Linked DNA regions of Homo sapiens: region 2 is linked to region 1. The links come from fine-mapping of genetic effects on gene expression. A gene starts in region 1. The other region holds a variant in brackets. All regions are shown on one strand. Distances are between the middles of the regions.

Region 1 (14,844 bases):
ATCCCTTAAGCCCCTGGGGTCCTGGTGAGTTCCCTGGCAGGGCCCAGCATGGGCCTCTCTTCCCTCCCCTGGAAGCCTGGCCTGGCCCGGTACCCAGTGAGGACTGCAGCAACACGCACACCTCCTGCAGGGACAGCCCACCCCAGGCCCTGCCCAGGACCCAACATCCAAGCTGAGCAGGGAGCAGCCATGCTGGGACGCTCCAGCCTCAAAGCTCAGCAGTCACCTGATCCCAGGAGGAGCAAAGACAAGCCTCCTCCACCCAAGTCATGTGGTGACAACTCACATGGCCCTGTGGAGGTGCTGGTGCCAGCAACAGACTGAAGACAGGGCATGCAGTGCATGGAAGATAGTTCTTTCATTCCTAAGGGCTAGGATCCATGATGTCCCCCCAAGTTATCCTGTAACCTTTAAAAAGCATGTGTCTATGGTCTGGGTGTTGCCAGCCCCAAAGCTGCTATGACCTGCTGCAGACCCAAGGGTCTCGGAACCCTTGCCAGGATGGACTCCTTGGCCTTTGAGAATTACTGTTTTGTCAGGGGCAGGTGTGGGTGAATAGAAAAGGAAGAGCGGGGAGAGAGACAGAGAGACATCATTCTAACTAACTCCTAGAGGACACATAAGTGGTATAAGGGCAGTGCCCACTGGTGGGAACACTGAGTTGGGGACAGGCCCTGGAGGGACAAAGCCACTGCAGACCACCAAGTAACCCTTGCCTGAGAAGCGCGGAAGGCTGGTCCGAGGTCTTGCTAGGACTTCCCGTGAGGGAGCTGGTCTGCACTGACTCATGGTGGGGAGTCCTTTGGTGGGACAGGAACTCCTACAGGGCAAGGGAGGACCACAGGCAGAGTAAGAAGAAGAATGCCTGTCCTGAGGACAGGAGAGCAGGAGTGAAACAGCCCACCTATCAGGAGACCCTCTGGAAGGATGCACTCAATATCTTGGGGATTTTCCTTACGACTAAGGGAAAGGTCACACTGCGCCATCAGCACTAAATTCATCCCATGTCTCCCAAGGTGGTCAAAATGTCTGACTCACTTGCCCAGAGGAGGCAGGATGGATGGAGGTTGAATGAATGGATCGCTGAATGGAGGATGGATGGATGGAGCATGGATGGATGAGTGGGTGAATGGATGAATGGAGGATGGATACAGGATGGATGGATGGAGAATGAATGGATGAGTGAATGGATCAGTGGAGGATGAATGATGGCTGGATGGATGATGGATGGATGAGTAGATGGATGGATGAATGATGAATGGATGGAGGACAGATGGGTGAGTGGGTGGATGGATGGAGGATGGATGATGGGTGAATGGAAGATGGATAGATGAGTAGATGGATGGATGGAAGATGGAGAACGGATGGATGAAGTGTAGATGGAAGGAGGATGGATGGATGGAAGGTGAACGGATGAGTGGATGGATGGATGGATGACGGATGGGTAGATGAGTGGATGGATGGATGGGTGGACAAATGGTAGATTTTTTTATTATTATTATACTTTAAGTTTTAGGGTACATGTGCACAACGTGCAGGTTTGTTACATACGTATACATGTGCCATGTTGGTGTGCTGCACCCATTAACTTGTCATTTAGCATTAGGTATATCTCCTAATGCTATCCCTCCCCCCTCTCCCCACCCCACAATAGTCCCCGGTGTGTGATGTTCCCCTTCCTGTGTCCATGTGTTCTCATTGTTCCATTCCCACCTATGAGTGAGAATATGTGGTGTTTGGTTTTTTGTCCTTGCGATAGTTTGCTGAGAATGATGTTTCCAGCTTCATCCATGTCCCTGCAAAGGACAGGAACTCATCATTTTTTATGGCTGCATAGTATTCCATGGTGTATATGTCAAATGGTAGATTGATTGATGGATGACTGGATGGATGGAGGATGGATGATGAGTGGATGGAGAATGGATGGATGAGTAGATAGATGGATGGATGGATGATGAATGGATGGAGGACAGATGGGTGAGTGGGTGGATGGATGGAGGATGGATGATCAGTGAATGGAAGATGAATGGATGAGAAGATGGATGGATGGAGGCTGGATGGATGGAAGATGGAGGATGGATGGATGGAGGATGGATGGATGAAGGCTGGATGGATGGAAGGTGGGCAGATGAGTGGATGGATGGATGGATGGGTGGACAAATGGTAGATTGATTGATGGATGACTGGATGGATGGAGGATGGATGATGAGTGGATGGAGAATGGATGGATGAGTCGATGGATGGATAAGTGAATGAATGGATGGGTAGACAGATGGTAGATTGATTGCTGGATGAGGGATGAATAGATGGATGGAGAATAGACAGATGAGTGGATGGATAGATGGGTGGGTGGATGAGTGGAGAATGAGTGGGCAGATGGTAGATGGATGGATGCATGGATGGATGGAGGATAGAGGATGGATGAGCAGGTATGTATTGGGAGCAAATGAAGGCAGGGGAGTGGGGGAGGAAAGTGAGGTGGGCCCTGTGCTCACCAGCCTTGAACCTACCTCATGGAGCTAAGGGTTGGCAGCCACAAGTTCCAGGCCACAACAGGAAGTAGACTGAGCTGTGGCCTAGCAGAGGGGAGAACCCAGGAGTTCAGCATTAACACAAACCCTCTGACATTCCCTAGAATGCTGGTGGGAGCATGTCCTAATGTGTGAAAATAACCCCCGTCCAGGGCACCTGATTCTCATCCAGGTTCCTTAGGTCTTGCAATTCTAGGGTTCTGTGTTCTGCAAGCCCATGCTAACAGCCTGCAGTCTTGGGACTCTGAGGTCCCCACAGTTGTTTGCGCTATGGTTCCGTGGCTCCAGGGCTGCACTCTGCTGCAACCTCTCTCCCCCTACCACAGGCTGGACACAGTTCACACCCTGAGGGATTCTCCCTCATCGCCCAGACTTTGGCACTGGGCACCCTTGACTAGCCCCCTGAATGCCAGCGCTTCGCAGGGACCATGCCGGTCCTAGGTGCTGAAATGGTGCCTCTCCCAGGGAAGGTGCCAGCCCCGCCTGTGGGCACCACCAGCCAGGCCTGGGAACAGGTTTGTTTCTCTTGGGCCTTAGGAACCTAGAGCCCCAGTCCAGCCTTTGCTGGGAACAAGCTGTGCCCCAAGGTAGAAGGGTTTCTCCATCCACGAAACTGCTCCCTAGATTGCCCCCCTGGCAGTGCAGGAAAGAGAGACCTGGCAAGGATGAGGGGCCTGTGTGGAGGGGCAGAGCTGGCCTCCATCCCCGGCCCCTGGCCCGGCCCGGCCCGGCCCATGGACACTAGGTGTACCCTGGGAGGGGTGGCTGGTAGCCAGGGTCCCAGGGGGTGACCTAAGACTAGGGCAGGGCCAGGCTTGGCCCTGGGAAGCAGGTGAAAGAGACTTTGCCTGAGATTGTGGTGCTATGTGTAAAGGTGACTCCGGCACTAGAAAGAGGAGTGGGGAGGCCAGGTGTGAGGGAAGAGCCCAGGCCCAGAGGCCCAGCCCAGCTGTGGCTCCCGCTTGCTGGGTGATGCCGGGCAAGGCCGGGCCCTTGCTGTCCATCTGAGGCCCCATCTGTGCAGGTGAGGGGGCTGAGAGGATCAGGGCAGCCTCTAGAAAGACACCACACACTCAGCCGCTCAGCTTGGGGCAGCCACCTGCCCCTGCGGGGGAAAGAGACAGAAAAGCGGCCTGGCACCTGGGCCCCAATGCCCTTGCCCGACACCCACCTGCTTACCAGGTAATGGCCACACACCCTTCCCTGCTTAGACAGCTCCAACAAGGTTGGTCCTCCCTTGGCTTCTCAGCCCCAGATCCTCACCCTCCACATCATCACACCCCTGCTGTGGGTCCCACAGAGGCAGCAATTGTCTGTTCCCACTCCCTACTGGTCTGCAGGCCCTGGGACCTGGGCCCTGTCTCTCTTCTCTCCTGGTTTCCATTATATCCAAAGTGCCTTGCATATGGTTGGTCCTTATAAAATGTTGAAGAATGAATGAATGAATGAGTGAGTGAATGAATGAATGAATGGAGTGCCTCAAGGCAGACGGATGCATTTTGGAACCCCTGGGGTGTGGCTGGGATTCTGGCTTGCCCAGGTAACAGCCTGAGGGTGAAGAAGCCCTTCCTTGTGCCCTGGGGCTTCCCAGCTCCTCCAGCCCAGGCAGCTCCTCCAGCCCAGGCAGCTCCTCCAGCCCGCGGCCCCGCCTTGTCCACCGGGCACCCACTCAGTCAGCTCCTCCAGGCCAGGGCCCTGACTTGTCCACCAGGCACCCACTCAGCCAGCTCCTCCAGCCCAGGGCCCCGCCTTGTCCACCGGGCACCCACTCAGCCAGCTTCTCCAGCCCGGGGCCCCGCCTTGTCCACCAGGCACCCATTCAGCCAGGACAGGGCCCAGGGCTGGGCTGGTGCAAGCCTGGAGTACGGTGCTGTGCCGCCCTAAGCCAGGCGCTTCCCTCTCTGAGCCACCACACCCTTGTGTGTTCCTAGGGGCCCAGCATAAGGTAGAGGGGGCAGAAGGTGGGGGAAGGGGCATGAGCAAGGAACTTCGGCTCCAGACAGAAGCCTGGGCTTGTCCCCGTGCCGGGTTTCCTGGTTCAGGGAGCAGGGGGCAAGGCTAACGGGGTGGGGCGGTGGTTTTCCCTGCCCCAGGCCCCTTCGTCGCCTCTCCCAGGTGTCATTTCTGCTGCCAATACCCTGATGGTACCAACCAGGCCCAGGGCCCCAGCTCCAGGGGCTGAGTGGGAGGGGTGGAGTGGGGGAGGGCCCAGGCCCTAGAGAACAGAGGAGGGAGGAGGGGGGAAAGGCTGGCGGTGATAGTGAGAAGTGCTTGAGACCCCACCAGGTTCTGCCCCAGAACGTGCCTGGAGCTCTCTGGCCCTCACTTCCTCACCAGTGAACAAGCACTGGGCAGGGACTGACATGAGGGGCCACAGTGTCTCCTCTCCACATTCCAATCCCTGGCTCTGAGGCTCTAGTCAGGTCACTGCCTACAAGAAACCCTCCCTGACTGCACTGTCCCCAGAAGCTCAGCTGTCCAAGGGCTCCTGGCATCAGAAGCACCCGCTTTCTCCTGAAAGTGAACTGTGTAGGGCTGCTGTTCATGCTTTTGCTAGGACCACCTGGGATGGGCAGCTCATCCTCGTGGGCAGCCCTGCCAGGTCAGAGGCCCTCATCCCACAAAACTGGAACCCCGCTCCGGCTCCCATGCCTGGCAGGGACGCAGCCACAGTGATGCCTGAGGTGTCCCACGGGGGTGAGCCAGGTGTGCAGGGCCCTCCTCCAGCCCCAGGTGTGGGGAGCACACTCCCCCATGGCCCCACACTCAGAACCCACTCTCAGGCCACCTGACATCCCGGACCCTCCAGCTCCACCAGACCCAGCAGGAATTCCAAACCTGTTTTTCCAGCAGCTCTCATGCCCCTGGCCACAGTGAGTCACCCTCCCCACCTGCCATGCCCACCGAGTCATCACCCCGCCACCAAGCCCTGAGCTCTGCCTCCCAAGGCCCCTGGAAGCACCTTCCCCCAAGCTGCCCATGCCTCTCACTGTGACCCATGGACACAGGGCCTTGGAGCTGGAGGAAACCTCCTCTCTCTGGGTGGGGGCATGGACCTTTGGGTCACCTGCCTTGGCAAGTGAGACTACACACGTCCCCACCAAGCTCCAGCCAGGGCCAGGCACCAGATGCAAATGTGGGGCTGCCCCAGGGGGCTCCCGCCTGCACCCTGGTTTCTAAAGGCACCACCAGGCAACCCCTCCTGTAGGTGGATCCTCCAGGCCCCGGCACTGTGTCAGGGAGAGCCCGGCCAGGAGCATTCTCAGGAGACATTTGCTGGGATCCCCGGCATCTGAGACGTGGGGCTCAGCAAGGGAGAGATGCCGGGAGGAAGGGCCAGAGGGTCTGTCTCAAGCCCAGGCCTGACTGGCCCCAGTACCCACGGTGCTCCCAAAAGCCTCAGCCCAGCCCAGGACCACCCTCCTCGGAACCGGCCCTGCCCTGCCCTGGGCCTGTTGTTGTCTGTTCATCAGCCACGTGGCAGCGGCGGCAGGAGGCTGGGCCCAGGGCTGACCTCCATCTGTGCCCCGGCTCCCACTCACCTTCAGCCTAGCCAGGGCAGGGGCAAAGCAAGTCTGTGGGCCCCTCCACACCACTCAGGTGGGTGCTGCCCAGCACAGGCGAGCGGCAGAGCGTGCTGGGCTGAGCAGGTGGATGGGGGCCCCAAGAGGTGGGCTCCTGCGCGAGGCGGTGGGTGCTCAGAGACCCCGTCTCCAGGGAAAGAAAGTCCCTCCTGTGAGTATAAAGAGGGTGAAGGCGGGGACTGGCCTCCACTCAACGGGCAGCAGACCAAGAACCTGCTTTGAGGCCCTGGGTGCTGGGGCCCAGCCCCAAAGAGTTCACGATTTTGGGGAGACTGGAGCCGGGACACCTAGAGCAATAGTTACAAAGTGGCCGGGATGGCGCTGCCCCCAACGTAGCAGGAGGGGCCTGGAGAGTGGGGGAAGGAATCCCACGGGGAGGGCTTCTGGGGCCCTGGAGGGCGGGAGGCAGGGCTGGTGGAGACCAGGAGGGCTCAGTCTCTCCCTGCACAACGCAGGGTGGAGTTGCTGCCTCCACAGCCCGGGCCTTCTGCCCACAGGGCTCCCCAGGCAACTTCGAGGGCCGGGTCCTCACAGTCCTCACTCTGTCCAGTGCTCACCTCACTGCTGCCCCAGCTGCCCTCCCTGCCTCGGAGTGGCCTCTGCCTCTGCCTCTGCCTCACACACCCCATCAGCCCACAGCCACCCCGAGCCCTTGCAGCTCAAGGACCTTCTGCATCCCCGGCAGCAACCCTGAGCCCAGAGCCAGGAGAGTAGGACCAGCACCTGCCCTTCCTACCTCCCCTGCCCTGGACACCCACGGGCACCCACAGGGCACCGGGCACAGGCTGCAACTCTATTGAGGGAACTATGGGGGGAATGCAGGGACAAAGACACAGGATGGTGATGGATGGTGGGGGGTGGGGGGCGGGGGGTAGCGGGTGGCAGGTCAGAGACAAAGTGACCCAGGAACGGACGGCAGCGAGAGAACAAGACCCACAGAGACAGAGAAGTGAAAGTGGGAGAGATGGAGGCACAGCAGCAGGAACAGCAGGGCCAGGAGGCCACTGGGCCCCGTTGCGGAGGGCAGACCTCTGCCTGGCGGGGGGCAGCAGGGGCAGCGCCCAGCGACAGCCAGGCTGGTGGGCGTGGGCCAGGCAGGGTGGGGCAGGTGCCCGTCCTGGGCTGACGCTTGCACAGAGCCCTGCAGAATGCCGCTGGCTGGCGGACTGCCCACCCCCGCCCAGCCCGTGCCTATAAGGCCTTGGCAATGCAGGGGCCCGCACTGCTCCCAGACGACATCAGAGATGAGGACAGCATTGCTGCTCCTTGCAGCCCTGGCTGTGGCTACAGGGCCAGGTGAGGGGCTGGGCCAAGGGGACGGGCGGGTGGGCGGCTGTGGCCTGTGTGGTCACCAAATACTAGGAGCCTGGAGCTGACGACATCTAGGCACAGAGAACCCCGACACTGTGGGTGCTAGACTCTTCAAATTTAAAACAACATGGAGCCCGAATCTTAACGAGTGTCAGATTTACAATGTTTCAGAATCTGAGGATCTTAGAACTGACTCCTGGAGTCACGGACCCTGAGAGAGTGGAGCAGGGGGTTGTCTTGAGATGCTTCTCACTGGGAGAGCGGCCATCTAGTCCCTGCCACCAGCCCCTCCCGGTCCCCAGGTCTCCCCCAGCACAGCCCAGGACAGCCCAAAGGCCACCAAGCCCTTCCTGTCATAGGCTCAGAGCAGCCAAGCTGGCTGCCCCCGGGGCCTTAGCTCCGTCAGGCCCTCAGAAACATAGCCATCTCCTCCAGGGACATCCCCTGGGGTGGGGACAAGAGCCAGTGTCCTCTTGGCAGTCGCAGAGCTCCCTGAGACCTTGGAGGAAAGGCTTGCAACACACCCTAGACAGGGGCAGGGCAGGACACCTCTTCCAAGCCGGCCCAGGCTGGAATACATGTCCCCTGAGGCTGCACTCAGGGCACATGCCCTGCCAGGACCCAGAGCCCGGGTTTGGGGGCCTAGGGCAAGGGCAGCAGGGCCTCTGTCCAGGAGGGGTCTCTGCAGGTGGGGGAGCAGGCCCTGCTGAGTCACCAGGAGGCCTCTGTTGGGCCCGCTGAGCCGGACTCCCTCCCCGCCAGCCCTTACCCTGCGCTGCCACGTGTGCACCAGCTCCAGCAACTGCAAGCATTCTGTGGTCTGCCCGGCCAGCTCTCGCTTCTGCAAGACCACGAACACAGGTGGGTAGCATCTGTCCAGGTGTCCCTGGGGCTGGGGGACATCCCTGGCTGTTGTGGGTGTTGGCTGGAAGGTTGTGGGGAGGTGGGGGGCAGAGGTGGCTGCCTGGCCTGACCACACTCACCTGTGCCCAGTGGAGCCTCTGAGGGGGAATCTGGTGAAGAAGGACTGTGCGGAGTCGTGCACACCCAGCTACACCCTGCAAGGCCAGGTCAGCAGCGGCACCAGCTCCACCCAGTGCTGCCAGGAGGACCTGTGCAATGAGAAGCTGCACAACGCTGCACCCACCCGCACCGCCCTCGCCCACAGTGCCCTCAGCCTGGGGCTGGCCCTGAGCCTCCTGGCCGTCATCTTAGCCCCCAGCCTGTGACCTTCCCCCCAGGGAAGGCCCCTCATGCCTTTCCTTCCCTTTCTCTGGGGATTCCACACCTCTCTTCCCCAGCCGCAACGGGGGTGCCAGGAGCCCCAGGCTGAGGGCTTCCCCGAAAGTCTGGGACCAGGTCCAGGTGGGCATGGAATGCTGATGACTTGGAGCAGGCCCCACAGACCCCACAGAGGATGAAGCCACCCCACAGAGGATGCAGCCCCCAGCTGCATGGAAGGTGGAGGACAGAAGCCCTGTGGATCCCCGGATTTCACACTCCTTCTGTTTTGTTGCCGTTTATTTTTGTACTCAAATCTCTACATGGAGATAAATGATTTAAACCAGTGTGGCTGTGGCTGTGCTATTCTGGGACGGAGGAGCTGAGGGGCGGATATCAGGCCACATAGGTACCCTGAGCCTCCAGCACATGTCCCCTGGGGCCAGTCGTGGGGTGATGCCTGAGGTGGCACCGTCCGTCCCCACCCTGGAAGGGGCAGGCTGCTCAGATGCCTCCCACCGCCCCAGAGGTGGAGGGCACTCCTGGGGTGAGGCCTGAGTAGGAGCACAGGGTAAGAGGGCTCGCAGGCCCCTCCCACACATAGCACCTAGGGGAGAAGGAACCCCTCAGCCTTTCACCCCGGGTCATGTCTCTGAGACCGGGGTTCAGGAGCCTCCAGAGAGGCCGGCTTGGGACACCCCAGGCCCAACCCCAGCTTTGGAGCCAAGTAGGCACTGACTACCTACAGCCATCGCCAAGGCAAGTCCAGCTGCCCAGGGAAAGTTCAGCCACCATCCAGGAAAGTCCCATGGACCCTATCTATGGGAACCCAGCAGCCCCTTGGCCAGACCTCACCAGGGTGAAGCTAGACTGGGCGGGGAGTATGACGCAGGGAATATGGGCCAGATGAGGTCGCCCAGAGGCAGGGAGGGTTCCGCACCCACTGCGTGGGTTCTGGTATTTCGGGGATGAGGTTGGGACGTGCAGTGAGATGAGGCCCCCGGCAGATGCCCCAGCAAGGGGCCCTTCCACTTCTGGAGAGGGCCAGAGGCTCCTGCAGGCTGACCACATGTCCCCGGCATGGGAAGTCTCAGGCCTCACCAGGGTCAGAGCAGAGCTCTGCCTTCCCCCAGGCCAGCTCCCTCGCAGGCCTGGCCTGGAAATTCCGTGGTGGCAGAGCCCCCTCCGGCCGCGGCCAGCAGACGGTGGCGTAGCGTGGGTGGCAGCTGGTGAGGGGTCAGTGGTGCTCCCTGGCCCTGGGTCCAGGCATTCAGCTCTTTGTCCCACACACCATGAGACCAGCACCATCACCACCCCCAGTTCCAGCTGAGGGGCTGGGGGCGAGTGGGGTGCTGGATGGTTACTGGAGGTGAAGCGTGATTTGGGAAGGCCTGCTCTTACCACCTGTCCATCCTGCCTCCCCTGGGACCCAGGGCCACTGTGCAACCCCCTCCTGGAGGGCTGCCTGCCCAGCCAAGGCACCGCGACCCAGGACTGGGTCTGGGTGAGCTTCACTGTCTCCACCTTGGGATCACCCTTCTCCACACCCAAGGCCCATCTCCCCAGGGCGGCCAAGGTGGGTCACTCCTTGCCCTGACTGAGAGACCTTAGGCAAAGCACTCCACCTCCGGGAGCCTCCATTTTCCTCCACTGGGCACCCACCTGGTGCAGCCAGCACCCCACATGCTGCCTGTGACTAAATGGTGGCCCTGGCCCTCAGCCCCCCTCCCAGCCACTGCAGGGCTGCAGGCATTTCCGTGCGCTCCTGGGGCCTCAGACCCCACCTAGTGCTCCTGCCCTTGGCTGGAACTGGGGGTGGTAATGCTGCTGGTCTCATGGTGCGTGGGACAAAGAGCTGAGTGCCTGGACCCAGGGCCAGGGAGCACCACTGACCCCTCACCAGCTGCCACCCATGCTACACCACTGTCTGCTGGCCGGGGCCGGAGGGGGCTCGGTCACCATAAGTTTTCCAGGCCAGACCTGTGAGGGAGCTGCCCTGGGGGAAGGCAGAGCTCTGCTCTGACCCAGGTGAGGCCTGAGACTTCCCATGCCGGGGGCGTGGGGTCAGCCTGCAGGAGCCTCTGGCCCTCTCCAGAAGGGGAAGGGCCCCTTGCTGGGGCATCTGCCGGGGGCCTCATCTCACTCCACGTCACAGCCTCATCCCCGAAATACCAGAACCCACGCAGTGGGTGCGGAACCCTCCCTGCCTCTGGGCGACCTCACCTGGCCCATATTCCCTGCGTCATGCTCCCCGCCCCCTCCAGTCCAGCTTCACCCTGGTGAGGTCTGGCCAAGGGGCTGCTGGGTTCCCATGGATGGGGATGGGCCCAGGCAGCTGGACTTGCCCTGGGTGGTGGCTGTGGGTAGTCAGTGTCCACATGGCTCCGAGGCTGGGGTTGGGCCTGGGGTGTTCCAAGCCGGCCTCTCTGGAGGCTCTTGAACCCCAGTCTCAGGGACATGACCCAGGGTGAAGGGGTGAGGGCGCCCCTTCTCCCCTGAGTGCTGGCATGTGGGAGGGGCCTGCGAGTGCTCCTGGAGGTCTGAGTATGAGCGCCCTCTGGTGGCCACCGGAGAGCCGGGTGCCGGGGCTCCTGCACAGGGAAAATCCGCCTTCGCCCAGGCCAGTGCCGCTCATGGCCCCATCTGTGCCCTTTTCCACTCCACTCTGGACAGGTGGCCTGAGGCCTGCCAAGCGCCCAGGGCAGGGTGTGCGAAGGCACCTGGGCATGGGAGTCGGGCAGAGAGCAGAGGGGTAGGAGTGCCTAGGCCGCAGGCCCACCCATCCCCACTTCCGTATGGGGAAACTAAGGCTGGGCAAGGGAAAGTGACTCCTGCCACTTCACGGCAGGCTGGCTGCAGGAATCCTCATCCAGGGCCCAGGGAACGGGAGTGCTCTGTGTCCAGTGCAGCCTGGAGGCAGGCGGGAATGCCACCTCCCCTACCACTCCCACCCCTGAAAGGCAGGAAACGGGGGCTGTGGCCACCAAACTCCAGGAATGAAGGAAGAGGGAGTTCTGCTGGTGGGTCAGGGAAGACTGCAAAGCAGCAGCAGGTACAGGGACAACGAAGGCAGCATGGATGAGGCTGCGTGCGGGCCCTGGGCAAAGGCCCAGGAGTGGGAGCGAACCTGCAGGATCCAGAGAGGGCTAGGCTGCCCATGTGGCTGCAATGGGGCCTGGGAGCTGGCAGGACTCCAGACCAAGCCCAAGGACAGTCACAGCTCATAGCCCATCACTGCCCTCTGCCCTGTGCCTCCAGGGGTCCCTAGCTCAGTCTCCCAGCCTCCAGGCTGCTTCTCTGTGACCCTGCTGGACAGCTCCTCAACTGTCCTGGACACAACCTGACCCCAGCCCCAGCCCCAGCCAAGACTCTGTCAGGCATCTTCAGTCCCACACAGGGCCTGCAACCTTGTAGGTGTGGACAGCGCAGCTGGCCAGAGGGGGCCGACAGCCCTGCCCCCATGTCCTGAGTGCCCCTGAAGGAGGAGCTCCCTCTGCCAGAGCCCAAGCTCAGAACTTGCAGGGAGATGCTTAGGCATAGGATTGAGTGGTGGGGCCCCAAGGCACAGCCACTGAGGTTTGGCCAGCACCCAGGGGTGGGGCACTGTCCCTGTCATGGGGTGCATGGCTGACTCTCCTGGCCCATCACCGGATGCAATTTTCTCTATGCCTTAAAAATGGAAATGCTAAAAGCAGTCAAAGCACAATGTCCAGACAGAGGGCAGCTGTCAGGGAGACTGTGCAAAAGCAACTGACCAGGTCCTCTGAAAAGGGATCCTCCCTCCACCTGCTCGGAACTTCTGCTCTCCTCACCGTCCAGTCGGGCCTGAGCTCCCACCCGGCCCCCTCTGGCCAGCTGCGCTGTCCCCACCTACAAGGTTGCAGGCCCTGTGTGGGGCTGATGACGCCTGACAGCATCTTGGCTGAAAGGCCAGGTGGGAGAAAGAAAGGAGCATTATTCAGTCAGATCAGGGGGGCCCAAGAGCCTCCCTTAACGCCCAGTCTCGACAGCCAGATCCCACGGAGGGCTGGAGGGGCAGCCCCAGCCGCCCACTCCACTGGCCAGCCCCCAACTCAGAGGCAGCTAGCTTTGGTTTGCAAGAGGTCCTTTCTCTGGTCCTGCCATGGACAAGCCGGACTGGGGAGGGTTGTTGAGGTCCTCCTCCTGGAGGGGCATTCTCAAACATTGCTCTCATTGATTTTTCTCTATCTTCTTTTTCTACCTCACTTTTTTTTTTTTTTTTTTTTGCTTTTATTTTTGCTATTTTCTTCATTTTGCTTACCTTGGGTTTGATTTGCTCTTTTTGTTCTGGTTTCCGAGGGTGAAAGTTTAGGTGGTTTTTTTTGGAGAACTTCTTTCTCTTCCAAAAGAAGTTTTAGCTCTTTTTTTTCTAAAAGAAGCATTAGTGCAAAATTTCCCTCCAGGGCCCACTTCAGCTGCATCCTTTGACTTTGATGAATTGTGTTTGCATTTTCATTCAGTTGGAAATATTTTCTGATTTCCTTTTTGGTTTCTCCTTTGACCTATAAGTTGTTTAGAAATATGTTATTACTCAGTTTCTAAATATTTGATGATCTTTTAGATATATTTCTGTTATTGATTTCTAATTTAGCTCCATTGTAGTCCAAGCAAATAATCTGCATGATTTTAATCCGTATAAATTTACTGAGATTTGTTCTATGGCCCAGAATACAGTCTGCCTTGGAGGACATTATTGGTAAATAAAGGTGTGTTCCCCTTCTGTGAGGTGGAGTGTCCTACAAACATCAAGTTGGTCATGTTGACTGGTAATGTGATCCACGTCTTCATCCTTACAGACTTTTTGTCTATTTTTTATCAGTTCTCGAAAGAGGAGTGTTGAAATCTCTGTTATTGTGGATTTTCTTTTTCTCCTTTCAGTTCTATCAGATGTTGTTTGTTTTGCTTTGTGTATTTTGAAGCTTAATTGTTAGGTGCATACATATTTAGAACTGCTGAGTCCTCTTCATGAACTGATCAATTTATCATTTGGTAATGTCCCTCTTTTTAAATTTTTTTTCTTTCTTTCTAGTACAGATAGTGTTTTGCTGTTTTGCCCTGGCTGGTCTCAAACTCCTGGCCTCAAGCAATCCTCCCACCTCAGCCTCCCAAAGTGCTGGGATTGCAGATGAGAGCCACTACACCTGGCCAGTAATGCTCCTCTTTATTTCTGATTATAGTCTTTGCTTTAAACCTACTTTGATATTGACGTAGTCATGTCTGTGTTCTTTTAATTGGTGTTAGCATAGTATATCTCTCTCCATCTTTTTACTTTTATCTTATTTGTGTTTTTACATGTCTGGTGAGTTTCCCACTGACAGCATATACTTGGCTGTTTCTATTTTTATCCAATCTGACAACCTCTGTTTTTAATTGAGATGTTTTTGTTTGTTTTTGAGGCAGAGTCTCACTCACTCTGTCGCTCAGGCTGGAGTGCAGTGGCACCATCTCAGCTTACTGCAACCTCTGCCTCCCAGGTTCAAGCAATTCTCCTGCCTCAGCCTCCCAAGTAGCTGGGATTACAGGCACCCACCGCCATGCCCAGCTAATTTTTGTATTTTTTAGTAGAGAGGGAGTTTCACCATGTTGGCCAGGCTGGTCTGGAACTCCTGACTTCAAGTGATCCACCTTCCTCAGCCTTTCAAAGTGTTGGGATTACAGGTTAGGATTACAGGTGTGAGCCACCGTGCTCAGCCTGATTGAAGTGTTTAGATGACATAGTGTCATTATTGCTGTGGCTGGGTTTAAATATATGTCATCTTGCTATTTGTTTTCTATTTGTCTCATTGTTTTTTCCTTTCTCCTCTTCTGCAGTCTCTGTAACATGTGCTTTTATAAATAAATAATTCTGTATCATCACTTTTGTTGATTTATTAACTACAGTGCTTTGACTTTTGCTTTTTTCTTTGTCTTTTTTTAGTGACACTTTAGCGTCTTAGCATACACCTTTGACTTACTAGTCTACCTCCAAGAAATAGTAGGCCACTTCACATAGAGTAGAATAAATCTACAACAGTGAACTTCCATTGTCCCTCTCCTGGTCTATTTGTATTACTATTTTTTTTTAAATTTATTTGACACAGCGTCTTGCTCTATCACCCAGGCTTCAGTGCAGTAGCGTGATCACAGCTCACTGCAACCTCCACCTCCTGGGTTCAAGTGATTCTCCCACCTCAGCC
Region 2 (14,844 bases), 31 kb before region 1:
GAGCTTTCCCATCCCCAGCAGAGGGCACAAGGTGGATTAGTTCAGATCACACACTGACAAACATCTTGCAAAGAGATTCCATTGTTCCAGATATACCCCAGGGCATCTAACCTTGTGGGCCGAGCCTCTAACCTGAGTTTCTAGGCGAGCATCGTTGTCTAAGCGTGACATAGGATGCCAACAGGATCCCAACCCACTCCTCTTATTGCTAGCCTCTTCCTAGCCACTTTCTTCTAGACGAAGAGTTAAATCAGGCTGTAAAATACATCATTAACTTGGGACAAGTTCAGCAGGCCATCTTCCAATATGATAATAAGATGTGACCTCAGCCGGGTCATGGAGTTTCAGATCATTTCCCTGCTAGCCCAGGTGCACAGGTCCTACTCAAGACATGGCGAAAAGGAAGCCCAGAGGCTCAGTTCACTGAGAAATGAAAGGGTCCATACCAGGTTTCCTTGGCCACTCCATCAGCTGTACAGTTGGAAGGACTTGTCTCTAGAATAAAACCTTTTGCTTCTCCTGATGGACGACAGGCCTGCTTGGAGAAAACAGTCTACTCCCATAAACCTATAGAGGACCTCAAGTATTTGTTCAAGAAGCTGCCTCTGGAAGACAGCAATAGTTAAGTAACATCCTTATATAAATGATATATACCAGGGGATATGCAGACTATCTTCAGGACCCTGGCTTGATACCCCCAACTGCACATTTCATAACCTGAACTCTCCATTCTCAATGACACCAGGGGATATGCAGACCATCATCAGGACCCTGGCTTGATACCCCCAGCTGCACAATTCATAACCTGAACCTCTCCATTCTCAATGACACCAGGGACATTCGAATTTGGGCTCCTCTTGGAATTGTTTTCCCTCGAGGCCACCCTAATAACCTCCTGTGGTCCACTGCCTGCTTTCCTTATACTTTTCCTCTGTTGGCTCAGGCCTATTCCTGCAGAGCCAATGTGTGATTCACAGGTGAATGTGCCTTGGGATCGATGGGGATAAACGGAGTAACCACAACTGCACCTCCCAACATCAGGCCACTGTCTGAGCAAGGTAAGGCCTTGGCATGGTGCCAGTGGGAATAGGCCTGACTATTGGTCTACCAGCCCCTTGGGGAGGCCTGACATGGCAGATTGGTCATGTAGTGGATCAGACTGGGCAGGCTCTAGAAGGTGTGAAGCCCTCCCTCAGTTCTCTCGATAACGTGGTGTTGGGTAACCATTGGCCCTTGATTACCTAACGGCAGAACAAGGAGGTGTATGCATAGTCACCAACACCTCCTGCCATGCTTAGATAAATACTACAGGGCAAGCAGAGGTGAACATCCAAGCAATCTACAATCAGACAATGTGGCCACACTCTCTGGTAAAGGGAGCCCAGCAGAGGAGTCAGTTCCGAATGCTGCCTCATCACCTCTCTCTCTACAAGTTGGTTTCTTCCTTCCTTAGGACCATCAGCGGCTATCCTTCTTTTGATTTTTGGACCATGCTTGTTTAACTTCCTGGGAAAACTTTTGTCTTCTAGATTGCAACAATGTTACTGACCGTGCAGTGCTTCCAGTGTGTTCCAGAAGCCCTCAGCCCTAGCAGATTGTCCCCTTAAGCTGAAAGGAGTTCCATTCCTCTCAGGTAAAGGTAAAGGATATAGGAATGACACTCGCCTCAGCAGGAAGTAGCTCCAGAAGAAGAGACCTTTGCCCAAAACCCCTTAAAATGAAGATGAAATCTCTCAGGGGGAATGAAGCAGGCTGGCTGGCTTCCTGTGGTGATCTGGCCTAGGGGAGAAAAACAAAGCCCCTTACTCAAGCTCTAGCTCACCTAACTTTCAGCCAATCAGCCCCCTGAAGCAGGGGGCTAGGGACTTCCCTGAAGCCCCACATGTGTAGTTAGACCTAAATTTCAACCTGGAGTTACCCCTTCCTCATTTTAATGCTAAAAATCACACCCAGAGGTGGAGATTTAAATTGCTAATGCCACATGCCATGTATGAAGAAACATGCCAGCCACTGCATCAGTGCTAGAAAAACACCCCCTCTACACACCTACCTTGCTGGGAGAAAATGGAATCCAGGCCAAGAGCAAACCCCAGCCAAAGATGTGCAGCCTCCAACCAGGCACAGGCATGAGGTAGCCAGGCAGGGGCACAGATGGTGTCTGTGGGCATGGTTTCATTAGATCTGCATGAGTATTGCCAAGGTTGGCTGCCCAGGGCCCCTGTGGTAAGGAGGAGGACGATGACATGGACGGCAACCAAAGACCTCACACTGGGAGAGCACAGCCAGGCTTAGGAGCAGGATTCTGTTTCGATGCTCATCAGTAGGTCTTCTAAGCTGCCTGGGACTACGGGAAGCATGTTTTCCGTGCAGGAGCCATTTCCCACCATCTCAGGCCCACATTCTTACCACCCCCATGGCCCCCAGGCTGTGTGCCCTTAAGCTGCTGGCCCTGTGGATGCCAGTCAAGGCCACTGTGGCAAATACCCAGCACAGTGTCCAGCATGTAGGAAGTAAATGAATACTTGCCGAGCAAATGAATACATGAATGCTTTACCTTACACAACCTCATACAGGCTGTAGTGTGGAAGCCTTACCTGCTTCCTGCCTGCAACCCCAGAGACCTGCCAGGGTCCCAGTGTTAGGACAAGCCCCAGCCCACATGCCAGCCCAGCCTCTGCGGCAGAATCAGCAAGGTGGTGCTTTCCACAGACATTCCAGCCTCCAGAGGCGTCTACAGGCCCCCTGGGCCCAAAGGCTCACAGAGCCCTCTAAGCACCGGGCTCTGGGCTGAGTCCTGCAAGCTCAGGGAAAGCGCTTCCCTTCTGCTGAGTGGACTCAGCACATTGGGGGTGGCCTTCCACTGCGAGAGGTGGAGCAATGGGACCTGAGGCCACTGGCATGTGTCCACTGAGGAGCGGCCTGCCTTCTCCCTCGCTGACTGGGTGGGGAGCCTGAGCTCACAGATGCAGAGCTCTGGAAATAGAGACCCTCAGAGCCATGCTGGTGATGCCACCCGAGGGCCTCCTCAACGCCGGCCCCTGCTGGCATCCTCCAAGCTGCAGGAGGAAGAGATCCAAGGGTAATCTCATACCTGCTTGACCCGCTTTGTCCCCAGCCGATGCCCTCTCCCAACCTGGCAAAGGGGTATGAACTCAACATCTAGGCCCAGCAGAGGAGCTCCACACCCCCGCAGGTATGACCTTGCCTGTCCCTTTGCTCTCCCAGGTCCTAGTAAGGCTCTGCACCTGGACTGGGCAGGAACGGCCTTCTGCAGGCTGGCCTTGCTGGATGGCCCTGCACCCTCCCTCTGGGCTCCTGCACCCTACGCTGCTGCCCCCACCTGGGCTGTAAACCCTGCCCCTTGTGTCTCAGCCATCCCTTCTGACCGACCTTGCTGTGGGCAGGCTCTCACGGGGTCCTTCTGCACATACAGGATTTGGCCCAGCCCCGGCATAGGGCCCAGCCAGCCTGTCTATGACATGGGGCAGGGGGGAGGGGAGGGAATGAATGAATGGCTGAACCAAGGACCCACCATGGGCAGGACTAAGCTGTAGGGAGGCAGCACTGCCCTGCTTCTAGGGATCTTAGGCTCCAGAGTCAGGTGCAGAGCCTGCAGGGCGTCTTGGCTTCTGACCCTAAGGGATGCAGGCGTGGCCTTCCCTTCATGGGTGAGGTTGTATCTGGAAGATAAAGCAGAGGTTTGCAGGGTGGGCCCTAAGAAGGCCATCGGGGAGGCTGGGCACCGGTCCAGCTTGCACCTAGGGACACGACAGCTCCACACCCACTTATCCCCAAAGCCAAAAGAACCCCAGGAATTCAGGGACAAGAGGGCTCTGGGTGGAGTCACGGGAGGCTTCCTGGAGGAGGCAGAGGAGAGAATCTGAGGAGAGGGTAGAATGAGGGAGACCTGCAGGCAGGGCACAGCCAGTGGCAGTGGCAGGCGCCTGAGCTTGGCCAGCATCCAGGCATGGGTGCTGTGGGACTCACTGTGATAGGAGTGTGCTCTGGTTACCTGTGAGCCAGGCTTTCCTGGGGGTGGGCTGTGGAAATGCCCGGAGGGGTTCCAAGGCCCATGAGGGCTGGAGGCTGGGGTAGGCAGGCTTTGCGGCGTGAGCTGGTGAAGAGGCACCCCTGCCAAGATACTCACCGCTCCACACTACCTCCTGCCTCAGTTTCCCCAAGGTGCTCAGGACAGGAAGCACAACTGCTCAGAAGAAAGCCCTCCTGAGGTGGTCCCTCTGTGAGCAGACGTGCTGTCCGGCAGACCACATCCTGCCCTCAGGGCCCTTGGCAGACAGGGCCGGCTCTCCACCTGGCAGACCCACCCAGGTACCCACTCGCCAGCCCTGGGTCACACCCTTGGTCCAGGGGGTGTGCGCCCGGCCTCCCCTAGATGTTTTGGCCTTGCCTACAGAGGTCGCAGTCCCTTCGGGAAACTCCTGAATTTGTCGCAACTGGGTAGAGTCCATCTCTGTACTCTCCTCCCACCAGTGGGCAGCATCCCACCTCTACCCCTTCGGTGAGTCGTGCCTCTGGCCCTTCGGTGAGTTGTGGCCATGGTCCAGCTGCCCGTGTGGCCAGCGACGGTCATTCAGCAATGGCGACGGCTGTGTCTGAGGGTCCCACAGAAGTGTGAGGGGGGATGCCACTCCAGGGGTCGCCAGCAGGCAGCAAGTGTGGGTGGCCTCACAGAGCCTGTTCCGTTTAGGAAATTCTCTCCAGAATACTCCTGGAGAGGCCGCAACACCCACCCCAGCTCTTAGCCACGTCCTCCTCCTGCCCATCTCCCCCAGGGCTTCCCCTAGCCAACCTGTACGACTCCTGTCTCCTGGCCCAGGAGGCAGCTGGGGTCTCTGGGGACAGCCTGATGGGCTCTGCCTTACCCTCCCCAGGCCTGTGAGGGGCACGGGGACTGTCCTGGCCCACCCTGGGCTGTGCCACGGTTCCCAAGACTGTGCAGCCTCTGTGGCTGCCTGCTTCCCTCAAGGGTCTTTCTTAGCTGGGCTACAGGGAACAGGACACTTAGCCGTTTGCTTCCCAGAAGCCCAGCAGAGGCTTGGGGGCCCAGCGCTGTCGGCAGCCTCCTCCTCAGTACAACTGCCCCTTGGGACCCAGCCCCTCTCAGTTCTCCCACCCCTTCTCGCTCCCAAACTGCGCAGCTCTTGGCACCCCCTTCTTACCACCCCCAGCACTTGGCAAACACTTCTAGAGGAGGCCTTTGCTAAAAGGAGTCTGGGCCATGGGTCGGCACGGCCCTGTGGCGTCCATCAGAGCAGCCCTGGCTGTGGGCTCCTCTCCCTCTTGCTGCAGGGTCACTGACTTCTAGGCGTCTGGAGTGAGGGTCTCCAGGGAGGTCATGCCCTGGCAGGCCAGAAATTGGGAGCCTCATGAGGGCCTCTGAGAGGGCTGAGTGATTCGCTCAGGCCCCACATCCACAGGGGCGGACTTAGACTTGAATCCACTGCCCTGGGCTTCACCAGGCAGATCCCCTTCCGGGAGCGAGAGCCCCGCCCCAAGGCTGAGCCAATGAACTCAGGATCTGAGTGGACCTTGGGACCTGCCCTCCAGACTTGGGCCTTCAAATGTTTCAAACACTTTCCAGCCTATGGGCTCTCATTTCACCAACAGAGCCTCCCCAGCTGGCCAGTAGAGCAGGCAGCATTAGCCTATTTTTCAGGCAAAGTGAGCCGTGGAGAAGAGTGGAAGATGGGAGATGGGCCAGATCTGAAGCCTGTGGGCCCCAGAACCACCGAGACCTCAAGGGTGCCTCCTGCTAGTCAGGTCCCCAGGAGGACCCAGCATGGCCAGGTTGCAGGTTACTCTCTGATGATGTTCGTCGTCCCCGTGGTCTGCTGGGCCCCGTCACAGCCCCCACAGCGTGCCAGGGCCTGTGAGCTGTGCTACACTGTTTTAGATGTGTTTGCTGGGTGCTGGGAGTGGTA[C/T]GAAGAGGGTGCTGAGAGCTGCGCAGTTTGGGAAGGAGAAGGAGAGGCGAGCAGAGGCCGGTGGGGTGGTCCCATCCTGCAGGTGAGGAAACTCGAGGTCCTGCCCAGCATTGGGGAGCAGTGGGCAGGCAGCAGAGGAGGCCTGGTGCAAGCCGGCCAGCCACAGACCTCCTCCGCCCCATCCTCCCCGGCTCCGCGGCTCCCTGGGCCCGGGTCCCTCTTGCCCCCATCTTCCTAGGTGACTTGGATCAGGCCCTCACAGCCAACACTTCCTTTTCACAGCACCGTCCCCCTGTTTCTCTGGGGTTTTCCTTGGTCCCAGGACTCTGCCAGACACACACATGCCCCTTTAATTCTGGGGACAACTTAGGGCTGGAGGGATCATGATTCCCACTTCATGGAAAAAGAATGTTAAGGAGAGGAAGGAGATGGCCATGCAGCCCACACTGCAAAACCTGGTCTGCCAGAGCCCAGAGCCAGGCACCTCAGCACACAGTGTGGTCGTGGCAGGGGAGCCACAGGTCCTACCCTCCTCCTGCCTGGTCCACCGAATCTGACTCCCCGAAGCCGCTGGGCCTCCCTGGCCCTGCTCTTGATGAGAGGCAGCGGAGCAGCTAAGCTCTGGAATGGCCCTCATCTCCCCTCCGGAGGCAGGACAGCTTCCTCCCTCCCTCCTACACCAGCCTCGGTCAGTCGCGGGGGAAGCGCCGGGGGGCTGGACCAAGCCTGGTGCACTCTGGGGTTGGTGTGTGAGTGCAGTCCAAACAGTGTGCAGGTGTGTGCACAAGTGTATGTGTGCTTACAGGTGTGTTCACATGCAAATGTGAGTGTGAATGTGACTGTATGTGAGTAAATGTAAATGTGTGTGTGAGTAAATGTAAATGTGTGTGTGTGCAAATGTTTGAGAGTGAATGTCAGTGCATGTGTGAAAGAGGATGTGTTATGTGTGAGTGCACATGTGAGCCAGTGTGTGTCACTGATGTGAGTGTGCTTGTGTGTGTACGTGTGTGAGTAGATGTACGTATGAATATGCTTGTGTGAGTGCTTGTCCGAGTGTGAGTGTACTGTATGAATGCACTGTGTGAGTGTGCGTGTGCGGGAATGTACCTGTGTGCATGTGTATGTCTGTATTGTGAATGTGTGTGAATGTGCATGTGAGTGCAGTCTGTGTGTGTGTTGTGTGTGAGTGCGTGTGTGTGTCTGTGTATTGTGTGTGAGTGCACATCAGTAAGTGTGCATATGTGTGCACATGTATGCATATGCTTGTGAGTGCATGTCTGTGTGTGAGTGTGCATGTGTGGGAGTGTGTGTACATGTGTGCATGTGCTTGTGTAAGTAACGTCTATGTGTGTGAATGTGTGTCTGTGTGTATTTTGTGTGAATGTGTGCGTGTGTACATGTGTGGGTATGTGTGTACGTGTGTCCCTGTGCTTGTGTGTGAGTACACGTCTGTGTGTCTTGTGTATGTGAGTGATTTTGTGTGTGTGAGTGTATTTTGTGTGTGTGTGAGTGTGTGTGTATCGTATATGTGTGTGAGACAGGAAGAGGTGCAGGGCTGAGGCCGGGGGCGTCTGCAGAGCAGATGGGGGCTGTCTTGTAGAGGGGCTTTGGGTGTACTGGATTCTGTTGTTCACACCAGATGCCAAGGCAGGACTCTATGTGCAAGAACATTTTGCCAGAAAAGCCTGTGAAGGATGAGAGGGAACAGGAGTGGGAGGCGAGAGCTGTGGGACTCCGCATAGCTCTGACAGTTGCGGAAGGAGGGGGCCTCCTGGATGGCGGGGCCATTTTGAGATGTCGGCTGGCCTCAGAGACATCCCAGCCAAAGCTGCCCTAATAGGAGGCCACAGAGGAGCAGCCCCCGCCATGCCTCATCACTGGCTGGGAGCACCATGGGGCTGGCAGGTGGGGCCAGCTCCTCTCCGCTGAAGGACCCCGAGGGTGCACTGCCGGGGCTGCCCAGCGGGGGTGCTGGTGGTTCAGTTATGAGTTTGGCTCCGTTCCCACCCTCTGCTTGGCTTCAGATGCAACTCTGCAAGCCACATTTCCACTTTGCCAGCAGGGGCTGCAAGAGGGAGCCTGAGTGATGGTGACGTGGAGGCTGTCCCTGGGCACCGCTTTAAACAGGGCAAGTCATCTATCTCACGGCCAGGCTCTGCTCGGGGGGGTGCTGAATTTCCACCCCACTTCGCGGGCAGAGAACTTCAAGACAGTGTGTTCGGAGATGGAAGCCCTTGCGGGTGTTGCCTGGCTGGTGAGCTCCTAATGACCCTTCCCGGGCCACCTCCAGTGCCCCCAGCTGTAGGCCCTGCAGGAGCAAGGCATGGCTCAGCCCCAGTCTGCAGGGAAGGCAAACTGAGCTGTCCCGGGTGAGCCCTGCAGCCTGCTGGGAGCTGAGACAGAAGCCTAGACACCCTTGTTTATCCAGTTTGCCACCTCCTTGCTCCTGGAAAATACCAGCCACACCCCACGCTCAGGAACACAGGCATCCTTGCATCCTGGCTCCTGGCTGACCAGATCAGCTGGAAACATGTGCACCCAGCCTGCCTGGGAACCCAGAGTGAATCATCTGTGTCCTCCACCTCCCCGCCCCAGTCTCTGCTCCCAAAGGAGCCAGCACAGCTCAGGGAGGGACCAGCCTGGACATGCCTGGGCAAGCATTCATGGTGCAGCTGTGTGCCACACTCAGTGAGCCTGGAGCCCAGAGGCTGGGATCCTTCAAAATGGGTTTCCAAAAGCTGGTGTACTCCCTGCTCCAGGAGGCCAGAGGCAGCAGGGAGAAAGGGGTTGCAGGGCAAGGTTCTGGGTGGGAAGGAAAGAGGGAAAGAAGCAGGATGGCCAAGAGCAGGTGCTGGGGCACCTTGCAATGCCCAGCTTTTTCCCGGTGCCTCCCGGCTCATGCCCCTTTAAGAGCCCCATCAGCCTGAGCCCCCAGCTGCTCTCTGATCCCTTTGTGAAGTGCTCTGTGTCTCTGAGCAAACTGGCATTCCTTTGCTTCCCCCAAACTCTGTTCCTAGATCTTAATACATCTTCCAATCACTATGACCAGGGCCAGGGCTGAGAATGTGAGCCATGGCAACCCGAAATAATAGAAAGGATCAGAATCCAGTCTAAATTTATTCAAGTGCAAAGCTAAGAATGACCATCCAGGTAACACAGACCCTAGAAGAATGAGGTCAGTGCTCCGAAGCTGGAAAGTTAAGGTCTTGCTTTTCTAGACAGATAAAACAAAGACATTTAACAGGCTTATGTTTTTTTTTTCGTACAAGGCCAGTTTATGAGATACAGCAATTTGATTACAACTTGTTTTCCTTTTCCAGTTTAAAAGTATATTTAACATTCCATCTTAGACAACGTGATAGTCGTGAAGTCTTTGTCTGGGAGAAGTAAAAGGGAAGTCAGTGTATAAAGAGATCAACAGTGAAGAGGGAAAGTGGTCTTCTTTGGCACCCTGTTGTCTTTTACAACATACTGCACAATGATGCAGGTAAAGAAGAGGCTAATCTATAATGAGAAGAACAAAGGTTACAGCTGCCTGTTTACATGATTCAGGTCTTATAGTCACACTCCTTTAAGTCTCAAAATAATTTAAAGTTCCAACAGCTTTGATTTCGAATTACTTAATTTTTACAGCAAGATCAGCATTAATTTATGTCCAGAGTCAGGTCACAGTGTGGGGTCACATTCAGGACTCAGCCTGTGACCACAGTCAGAGATCAATGTGTGTCCAGAGTCATATATAGTGTGACAGCATGACCCAAAGTGTGGGAATGGGTCTCAGTATGTGATCAGAATCCAGGCTCAGTGTCAGATCAGGGCTCAGTGTGTGACCAGGATCGGGGCTCAATATATATCCAGGATCAGGGCTCAATGTATGTCCAGAGTCAAAACAGAGTGGAAGCACGATCAGGGCTCAGTGTGTAGCCAGGGTCAGACCTAAGTGTGTGTCTAGGGTCAGGGCTCAGGGTGTGACCAGGGTCTAGGTGCAAGCCATGCCTGTGAGAACGTCTACTGTGCAATGATGATTGAAGGGCGTGACCTGTGGCCTTAGCTTCATTATCTTGGCATTTTATCTCCTGAGACAAGCTATTCGCAGGTCTTCTTCAGGTTACCAAAGACAGAATGTTACTGCCTGCATGGCAAACAAGACCCAAGATGTGGTCTTCTGGGGACCAGGAGAACAGCTGCTCTAAGCATGTGGCCTAGGAAGTGTGGCGATTGCCCTGAAGAGCTCTGCCAGCCACACAAACCCCACCATCGAGCCCCTCACTTCTATAGGCATTGCCACATTTTTTATAGAAGCTTATTACTTTTATAATTGTTTTAGATTTACAGAAAAGTTGCCAAAGATAGTACAGACAGTTCCTATATTCCCCACACCCAGATATCCTTATTGCTATCTTCTCCTTCTCCTTCTTTTTCTTCTTCTTCGACAAGGTCTCACTCTGTTGCCCAGGCTGGAGTGCAGTGGTGCAATCACAGCTCACTGCAGCCTCAACCTCCTGGGCTCAAGTGATCCTCCCGCCTCAGCTTGCCAAGTGGTTGGGACTACAGGCATGCACCCCCATGCCTGGCTAATTTGCCATTTTTTTGTAGAGATGGGATCTCACTATGTTGCCCAGGCTTGTCTCAAACTCCTGGGCTCAAGTAATCTTCCCACCTCAGCCACCCAAAGTGCTGGGATAATGGGCGTGAGCCACCTCACCCAGCCGAAATCCCTATTTCAACATCTTATATTCCTGTGGTCCATTTGTCACAATTAATGAACCAATATTGACCCATTATTATGAGCTGAATCCACACTTGATTCAGATTGGCTTCATTCTCCCCTAATGTCTTTTTCTCATCTATTACCCTCCAAGAGCCTGTGTGGTACATACTCATGTTTACAGAGGCTCCTCTGGGCGGTGACAGTTTCTCAGACTTGCCTTGTTTTTCGTGACCTCGACAGTTTTCAGAGGTACTGGTTGAATATTTTGTGGCGTGTCTCTCAATTTGCCTGGTGTTTTCCTGGTGGTTAGACTGGGATGGTCGTTTTGAGAAGACTGAAGCAGAAGTGAATCACTGTTTCTGTCACCACATCAACAGTAGGCACTGACACTGGGATTCACCACTGTTGATGCTGACCTTGACCACTTCCATGGTGTTGTATCTGCCAGGCTTCTCTCCTACCAGGAGAAGCCTGTTTTTTCCCCGATACGGTTTCACTGTGTCCCCACCCAAATCACATCTTGAATTCCCACATGTTGTGGGAGGTGCCTGGAGGGAGGTGATTGAATCATGGGGGCAGGTCTTTCCCATGCTGCTCTCATGATAGTGAATAAGTCTCATGAAATCTGGTGGTTTTAAAAATGGGAGTTTCCCTGCGCAAGGTCTTTCTCTTTGCCTGCTGCCATCCCTGTAAGACATGACTTGCTCCTCCTTGCCTTCTGCCATGATTATGAGCCCTTCCCAGCCACGTGGAACTGTAAGTCCATTAAACTTCTTTCTTTTGTAAATTGCCCAGTCTCTGGTATGCCTTCTAAGCAGCGTGAAAACACACTCATACATTCCCCCACCCTATTTCCATGCTGTCATGGTTGGAAGGAAGTCACTAAGTGCAGCCACATCTGAGGAGTGGCAATTTAAGCTCCACCTTTTCAAGCAAAGTATCTATGTAAATTATTTGGAATTCTTATGCAGAAGATTGGTCTTTTCTTTCCAATATCCTTCTTTCTTCAATCATTTATTGATATCATTATGGACTTGTAAACATTTATTTTATGCACAGGAGTATAATCCAATACTGTTATTTATTTTGCTGCTCAAATTGTTCCAGCTCTGGCCATTGGAAGGGTTTTCAGCTGCCTGATCTATTCCTTTCACAGTCCGCATCATTTTGGGTCTTTTTTTTAGGATTTTCTTCTTTTCTGGCCCCACATGGTCTTCCACAACCCAAATGTCCTTCAACTGATGAACCGATAGACAAATGTGCTCTATCCACATGGAGTACATTCCGTGGAATCAAGCACTGACATAGGCAACAAGGCAGTGAGCCTTGAGAACTTGGTGCTCAGGGACAGAAGCCAGACACAGAGGCCACATAGTATATGATCCCCTTTGCATGACAAGTGCAGAACAGACAAATTCACACGGAGGCAAAGTGAAGCAGGGGTTGCCAGGGGCTGGGAGCAGGGAAGCTGGCACTGACGGCTGATGGGCACAGGTTTCTTTTCGGAGTAAAAACATCCCAAAATTAGATTGTGGTGATGGTTGCACAACCCTGCAACTATGCAGTACTGAAACCACTGAACTGTTCACTTTAAATGGGTGAGTTTCATGAAATGAATTATATCTCAATAAAGAAGTTTGGTTTTGGTTTTGTTTTGTTTTTAAAGGTACTTTGGCTGGGCGCAGTGGCTCGCGCCTGTAATCCCAGCAATTTGGGAGGCCGAGGCAGGTGGATCACGAGGTCAGGAGATCGAGACCATCCTGGCTAACACGGTGAAACCCCATCTCTACTAAAAATACAAAAAATTATCTGGGCGTGGTGGCAGGCGCCTGTAGTCCCAGCTACTCGGGAGGCTGAGGCAGGAGAATGGCGTGAACCCGGGAGGCAGAGCTTGTAGTGAGCTGAGATCACGCCACTGCACTCCAGCCTGGGTGACAGAGCATGACTCCGTCTCAAAAAAAAAACAAAAAAAAACTACTTCAGGCTCATCTTGTGTTCCCGCATTCCATCCCTAGAATCAGCCCTTTCTCCAAGTAGTGCTCATTCCTGTGAGTGAAGAAGGATGTCAGGAGTCAAGATACGGGTGCTGGGTGGGCACTGCTGGTTGCTGGCTGGGTTTTGGGCCTCCCCATCCACCGCTAAGCCCACCCCAGAGCAGCCTTCTGTGCTGGTCAGCATTGCTGTCACTCTTTTTCTTCAGACAACCAATTGCAGGCTTGGAGAGATTGAGGGGCTGGCCCAACACCCCACAGCATGGGCATGAGTGGGGCTGAGACCTGAACTGGGGCTGGTGGGTGTAGATACCTTTCAAGGTGGCCCCATCTCTCCCTGCGGAAGGAACTGGGATTCCTTGCGTCCTCTCTCTGGTTCGAGCCCAGGCCGTGAACTCCCGAGTGACCCCACATTCCCCTGGCACAGGGGCCCTCATGGGGCACATGGGCACGGGAGCCCCACGCCAGCATCTGAGTCCCCAGCACAGCTCCTTTCCTGCGCTTGCTGCCGGCTTAGGGGCCTTAGTTGAAATCCTGACTCCTCCACCTGCACCCGGACTCAGTTTTCCCTGTGTGAATTGGGCAGGGAGGTGGCACTGGCTACACTCCCAGGATCCTCCTCTACTCGGACAAGCTCATGCCACTAGGGCACCACTTGGGCCTCACCCACTCTGGGCCAGTGACTGGGGGGCCCCAGAGGGCGTAAGGGGCCCTGGGCAGCCTCAAGGAGGTGTTGTGGGGCTCTGCAGGCATCAGGTGGAGGAGGAGTGGCCCGAGTGGGCCTTGAGCTGTGATCTATGAAGCGCTTCCTCACTGTGAGGCCAGGACAGGGATGCCCTCCGCCCATTGGTTAGAGGACAGGACAGGGATGCCCTCCGCCTGTTGGCTAGAGGACAGGACAGGGATGCCCTCCGCCATTGGCTAGAGGACAGGACAGGGATGCCCTCCGCCCATTGGCTAGAGGCTGCTATGAGGTGAATGCAGGTTTCCAGCTACCGAACTGGGCATGAAGAGAACAAGGTCCTGAAAATCTCTAGAGACTCAGTGTGGCTGGCATGTGCCCACTGCAATTCTGGGGCCTGGGTCTAATGCCCCTCCAGCCCCTGCCCCCTGCACTGGCTAGAGAGAGGCAAGGCTGAGAGAAAGGGAAGGATGGAAGGAGGGAAAAAGGGAGGGGTGGAGGGAAAGAAAGAGGGAGGAAAAGAGGGGGGGGTGGAGAGAGGGAAAGAGAGAGAGAAAGAGGGAGGGGTGGAGGGAGGCGTGAAGGGAAGGAAAGAAAAATGAGTGGTTGGAGGGGTGAAGGGAGGGAATAGGGTGGAGGAAGGGAAGGAGGAAGGAGGGCAGAGAAAACTGGAGGGTGGGAAAGAGAGAGGGGTGGAGGGAGGGCTGGAGGGAGGGAAGGGCTTTCAGAGGGAGGGAGCGGGAGCAGGACTCATCCACTGGTTCACTCAGAGGTCTAGGGCTCCTAACCGGGGTCCCAGGTCCCTTCCTGTAGGCGGGATCGAGCTCCTCCGGGCTGGCAGGTTCCTTGCTGGGATGTAGCTCCTGTGGAACCTCACCCGTGCCCCTGTTCCTTCACCTGCCCTGCTCATCCCTGAGTCCCCTCTCAGCCACCCTAGGGAGTTGAGTCTAATGCCAGGCTGGGGAGGCCCCATTAATTATGGCCCTGAGAGAAAGCCTGGGCTGTATTTGGAGAACACCTAGCTTATAAAAGACTCGGACTCGGCTTGTAAAATGCCTGATTAGCTTAAAGAGGAATGGCCCAAGCCTTCCCCCAGGCAGAGGAAGCCAGGGCAGCTGGCAGTAGGGCAGCTGGCAGTGGGCGGCAAGGCTTCATTCCAACGCCCACCCCCAGCCCAGCCCAGGGCAGCCCCTGCCCTCAGCTCTTCCCTCGGAGCCTTCCCTGAGAGCCCAGAAGGATGGCCCCTCTCCTATACGCCCACCTTGTGGGGGCTGCAGAATCTTGCTCCTAAAAGGCCTTTTGAGAAATCATTGAGTTGAGCATTTGTCAGAGCCTTCTGCTGAAGGAAAAACAGCTTTCACTCCCAAGAATATAGACGACAGTTTGAGAACTGTGCACGGGTGCACGTGGTGTGCACGGGGTAAAATCCAGCTGATGCCCATACTGAGTTTCTGGGATTCACTGTGCCCTGGTGTGCCATCTACACAAGCTAGTCCTCTCTCTCAAGTTCCCGCCTCT

The links. PIP is the estimated chance that this variant, and not a neighbour inherited with it, causes the effect.
Region 2: its variant is fine-mapped to the expression of LY6D in tibial nerve (GTEx, PIP 0.99).

The regions. Positions count from the first base shown.
Region 1 is chr8:142,779,032-142,793,875 of GRCh38, reverse strand. It overlaps LY6D (lymphocyte antigen 6 family member D), which reads left to right and starts at 7,337. Exons shown (of 3, transcript NM_003695.3): 1 at 7,337-7,411; 2 at 8,189-8,287; 3 at 8,420-8,994. The coding sequence starts at 7,360. The coding sequence ends at 8,655. RefSeq lists a silencer at 11,177-11,226.
Region 2 is chr8:142,809,590-142,824,433 of GRCh38, reverse strand. No RefSeq gene overlaps it. Among named protein-coding and RNA genes, the nearest start is that of GML, 18 kb to the left of the region's middle. RefSeq lists enhancers at 8,286-9,122, 8,330-9,529. The variant C/T (reference allele first, on the strand shown) is at 5,943.